Linked DNA regions of Homo sapiens: region 1 is linked to region 2. The links come from fine-mapping of genetic effects on gene expression. Tissue or cell type: whole blood. Region 2 holds a variant in brackets; the other region holds the start of a gene. All regions are shown on one strand. Distances are between the middles of the regions.

Region 1 (2,621 bases), 360 kb before region 2:
AGCACAAAATTATGAATCAAAGAATGGTCCCCAATTACCACGAGCCAGCTGTGTGACCTTGGGCGACTCCGTTAAGTTCTTTTAGCCAAGAGTGATGAATGGTCTGCAAAACGACCTTAATACCTGTTCTGAATACCCCCACATGGCTGTGGTACAGCAGGCGTGAGATGTTTAAAGTACTCCTAAGTAATTTATAAACTGCAAAACGCTTCCCAGCACAAGCGTCCGCTACAGAGCGCGACGACACCGAGCCGGTTTAGAAGTCCAGTTACTGGAATCCACTCCAGTTCCGTCCTGCTCCCACCTCCTACGCTCAGGGTGGGCGAGCGGAAGGAGACTCTCAAGGGAGAAGGCCTGGAAAACTGGCTAAGAAACGAAGCGAGAAGTTCCTCAGCAGGGGTAAAGTTGTTGGCGGCATTTTTAAGCCCCTAGAGTGGCACAGCGACTCCCGGTCGAGATGACGGACCCCGGTGCGTGACCAGCGCGGGAGCCAGTCCCGGGCCACCTCCCTGCTTGAAGTCGGGCCTGGCCAGTACCCTCCCGGCGCAACCCCGGACCCGGGACCCCCGACTTTGCCCTAGTCCCCAACCCCCACAATCACCTCCCTTGGTCCCCCTCCACGTGACAAGAGCCGGAACCGTCACTTCCGGCGGCGCGGGCAGCGCGCCTGCGCGGGTCGCCCGGCCTCAGTGAGCGGTTGGCAGCAGCGCCCCCCCCCCCCCCCCGCCAACGGCCACGAGTGGCGGGCGGCGCGGGTTCGGCCGGGGCGGCGGCGGCGCGACGGGCTGCGGTCCTGCGGGTTTGTGGCCTGAGACGTCTAGCCCACTCCCTGGAGGGGCCGGCCGCCCAGCCTCTTTCGCTCTCTTCCTCTACCCCGGCTCGCGCTCCAGGCGCTTAGTGAGGCGGCGGGACGCCCGGGGCACTGGCGGAGGCGGCGGCGTCGCCCCTGGATTCGGACCCGCCCCCTCGCGCCCCGCCCCGTCCCCGCCCTCCCCACCGCCCTCTGCGGGAGCCGGGCAGCTGCAGCGGAGCCGCGGAGCGGGCGGCGGGGCCCAGGCTGTGCGCTTGGGGAGCGCGGAATGTGAGGCTTGGCGGGCCGCAGCACGCTCGGACGGGCCAGGGGCGGCGACCCCTCGCGGACGCCCGGCTGCGCGCCGGGCCGGGGACTTGCCCTTGCACGCTCCCTGCGCCCTCCAGCTCGCCGGCGGGACCATGAAGAAGTTCTCTCGGATGCCCAAGTCGGAGGGCGGCAGCGGCGGCGGAGCGGCGGGTGGCGGGGCTGGCGGGGCCGGGGCCGGGGCCGGCTGCGGCTCCGGCGGCTCGTCCGTGGGGGTCCGGGTGTTCGCGGTCGGCCGCCACCAGGTCACCCTGGAAGAGTCGCTGGCCGAAGGTACGGGCGCCCGGGGAGGCTCGGACAGGCAGGTGAGGGAGGGTTGGGGTGTGGCGGCGGCTTCTCCGGGTCCTCGCCCTCCGGACTGACTCTTATACCCCATTCTTCCTCTGCTGCCGGGCCAGCGGGGGCTCCTAAAGAGTGGCTCGGGCTTTCTCTCTTAAGCTGGCTTTTCTTGCCGCTGGCTGCCCCGGCCGGTGCACAGTTCTCTCATGCCTAGTTTAAATCATTTTCTGTGCTTTTTGACGCGAGAAAATAGGTAGTAGACGGGCTAGGAAGTGGGTTGGTGTTACGATTGGGCCAGTGACTCATTAGAGGGTCAGATCGAACAGGGTTGAAGCTCCGTTCTGCCAGCTGTGGCTCAGACGGGTGTCATGCGTTGGCCTTTTCATCTAAGCCTCCACCCGCGCTGCAGGGCATAGGACCCTGCAGCCCCTGGTGTCAAGCTGGGCTTTGCTGCAGCTCAGTCATCTGTTGAAAAACAATGTATTTGTGTGCATGTGTGCGTGTTGGAGGTGATCCTTTGCTCTAAATTCAGTTAGTAGGTTGCACTGAGGAGCAGGTAAACTTGGAGCCCATTTATCTTTGTTATTTAGAATCTTCTCTGTTGGACAAGGTGCTATTCATGCCCTCCCAGTATGTCTCTTTGATAGTAGTTTAAAAGGTGATATAAAAGCAGGTTAACTTTCACTTAACGAGGTTTTGTGGTCGGTCCTTCATGATCTGGAACAGGTTATGACGGCAGGTAGAAGTCTACTTACAAAAAAAGTTTACTCCATTTTAAAAGAAGAACTTAGAATTTAGTTTTGTATTTCTGGCATAATTGCCTTGTAGAAAATACTTGCCCTGTGTGCTGCATGCTTCATTGGCCTTTGAGTTTTTAGTTGCAAAATGATACTACAAAATAAACACTTTAAAAGAAATACTTTTTGTTGATAAATGGCCCTTTTAAGTTCTATGGTTAAGATAAAAAAAATCGAAGAGTGGATTCAGTTCTCCGAGCGTTAGACGTTGATGTGGTTTGAAAACAGTAGACTGAGATTCCGCTTGTATTTTTTGAAATGCTATACACAACAGTAAATTAGCACAAGGGAAAAAACCTGAAGATTTTTGTATAAAATATTTGAAAGAGAAAGAAATCGTGAATTATTCAAGTGTACATATCATTGTTTCGTGAACCATTGCTCAGAATAATGATCTTAGCCGAAACTTGGAGAGGTGGGAGAAGGAG
Region 2 (2,764 bases):
ATTCTATGAGGCCAAAGGTCATATGTATCATACTGACCTCTCTATCCCTGGCATCTATAATAGTATGGATAATCAATAAATATTTCTGAAATATTCAATGAATGAATGGGTGAATAAACCTTGAATGCTTCAACCACTTCACATTTTTAATTAAACTATTTATTTTGAGGTAATTATCGATTCACATACAGTTGTAAGAAATTATAGAGAAATTCCCTTATACCTTTTACTCAGAGTCCTCAATGATATTATCTTACAAAACTGTAGCACAATATCACAACTGAGATACTTGGCCTTGAAATCTTGAAGTGCAGTGTCGGCTAGGTATATTAGAATCAAAATGTCTCTTTTACCTCTAGCAAATTCTGAGCAGCGTTTTTCAGGTTTGCACACCTGGAGCTACAAGGCCAGGACCCAGGTCTGTATGCTGAACTGGCTGACCACCATGCTCTTTGCATGCCCAGGGTCGAATATTGAGAGGTAGCATTGATTTCTTCTAATACATTTGAAGGCTTTCAAAGGACTTAATAGGAAAGATCTTTTTAATGTGACTGATATTTTAAAATATGTGTTCTCTTTTTTTTTCAGGGCTTCCCGTAGTAGTCAGATATATTGGCCTGAAGTGAAAGAAAGGGATTTAGTTTCAATGTTCTGCATATGGCAGATCAGTTATCTCAGCACCATTTATTGACTCCCAGCACAATAGGGAGTATTTTCCCCATTGTTTGCTATTGTCAACTTTGTCAAAGATCAGGTGGTTGTAGGTATTTGGCTTTATTTCTGGGTTCTCTATTCTGTTCCATTGGTACATGTGTCTCTTTTTGTATTAGTACCATGCTGTTTTTGTCATTTTGGTTATTGTAGCTTCATAGTACAGTTTAAAGTTGGGTAGTGTGATGCCTTTAGGTTTGTTCTTCTTGCTTAGATTGCTTTGGCTATTTGGGCTCTTTTTTGATTTCATATGAATTTTAGAATAGATTTTTCTAGTTCTGTGAAAAAATAATATTGGAAGTTTGATAGGAATAGCATTGTATCTGTCAGTTGCTTTGGGCAGTATGGCCATTTAAACAATATTGATTCTTCCTATCTATGAGCATGGAATGTTTTTCTATTTTTTTGTGTGTCATCTGATTTCTTTGAGCAGTGTTTTGCAATTCTCATTGTAGAGATCTTTCACCTCCTTGGTAAGCTGTAGTCCTAGGTATTTTATCCTTTGTGGCTGTTTTTTGTAGGATTGTGTACTTGATTTGGCTCTGACCTTGGATGTTATTG[G/C]AATATAGAAATGTAATAATTTTTGTACATTGATTTATATCTTGAAACTTTACTGAAGTCATTTATGAGTTCTAGAAGCCTTCTGGCAGAGTCTTCAGGATTTTCTAGGTAAAGAAGCCTATTGTTCATGAAGAAAGATAGTTTGACTTCCTCTTTTCCTATCTGGATGCTTTTTTCTTTCCTTCTCTTGCCAGGTTGCTCAGGCTAGGCCTTCCAGTATTACATTGAATAACAGTGGTGAGATTAGGCATTTTTTTTTGTTCCAGTTCTCAGGGGGACTGCTTCCAGCTTTTGCCTGTTCAGTATGATGTTAGCTGCAGGTTTGTCATATATGCCTCTTATTATTTTGAGGTATGTTCTTTCAATGCTTAATTTGTTGAGTGTTTTTAACATGAAGAGATGTTGAATTTTATCAGAGGCCTCTCCTGCATCCATTGAGATGATCATGTGATTATTAATAAAATTTTGTTTATGTAGTGAAACTCATTTATTTATTTGTTTACATTAAACTAATTATTTATTTGTGTTAAACCAATCTTGCATTGGAATAAAGCATACTTGATCATGATGAATTAACTTTTTGATGTCTGTTGAATTTAGTTTGCTAGTATTTTGTTGAGGATTTTTGTGTCTGTGTTCATCAGGGATATTGCCCTGAAGTTTTCTTTTTTTTGTTTTGTCTCTGCCAGTCTTTGGTATCAGAATGATTCTGGCTTCATAGAATGAGTTAGGGAGAAGTCCTCCTCCTCTTTTCTTTTTTTTCTTTTTTCTTTTTTTTTTTAAGAATAACTTCAGTAGGATTGGTACTAGCTCTTTTACATCTTGTAGAATTTGACTGTGAATCCATCTGATACAGGCCCTTTATTGGTTGGTAGGGTTTTTATTACAGATTCACATTTGAAACTTGCTATTATTTTGTGCAGGACTTTAATTTCTTCCTGGTTCAATTTTGGGAAGCCATGTGTTTCCAAAAATATGTCCATTTCTTCTGGGTTTTCTAGTTTGTGTGCATAGAGGCATTCATAATAGTCTCTAAAGACTTTTTGTATTTCTTTGGGGTCAGTTGTAATGTCACCTTCATTGTTCCTGTTTGGGTTTATTTGGGTTTTCCCTTTTTTTCTTTATTAATCTAGCTAGCAGTCTATCAGTCTTGTTTAATCATTTGAAGAACCAACTTTAGGTTCTGTTGATCTTTTATGAGGATTTTCATGTATCAATTTCATTCAGTTCAGCTCTGATTTTGATTCTTTCTTTTCTTCTGCTAGCTTTGGGGTTGGTTTGCTTTTGTTTTTCTAATTCCACTAGGTGCGCCATTAGGTTGTTAATTTGAGATCTTTCTAACTTCTTGATATAGGTGTTTGGTGCTATAAACTTTTCTCTTAAGACTGCTTTAGCTGTGTCCAAAAGATTCTGGTATGTTGTGTCTGTTTTCATTAGTTTCAAAGAATTTTTTTTTTGTTTTTGCCTTAATTTAATTATTTACTCAAAAGTC

The links. PIP is the estimated chance that this variant, and not a neighbour inherited with it, causes the effect.
Region 1: BMP2K starts here. The variant in region 2 is fine-mapped to the expression of BMP2K in whole blood (TOPMed, PIP 0.98).

The regions. Positions count from the first base shown.
Region 1 is chr4:78,775,332-78,777,952 of GRCh38, forward strand. BMP2K (BMP2 inducible kinase) reads left to right here and starts at 1,019. Exons shown (of 16, transcript NM_198892.2): 1 at 1,019-1,390. The coding sequence starts at 1,213. It overlaps BMP2K-DT (BMP2K divergent transcript), which reads right to left and starts at 639. Exons shown (of 1, transcript NR_186689.1): 1 at 1-639. RefSeq lists enhancers at 255-885, 1,518-2,148 and silencers at 352-601, 692-1,361, 1,723-1,923.
Region 2 is chr4:79,133,542-79,136,305 of GRCh38, forward strand. All of the region lies in intron 3 of LINC01088 (long intergenic non-protein coding RNA 1088), which reads left to right. Among named protein-coding and RNA genes, the nearest start is that of LINC01088, 160 kb to the left of the region's middle. The variant G/C (reference allele first, on the strand shown) is at 1,273.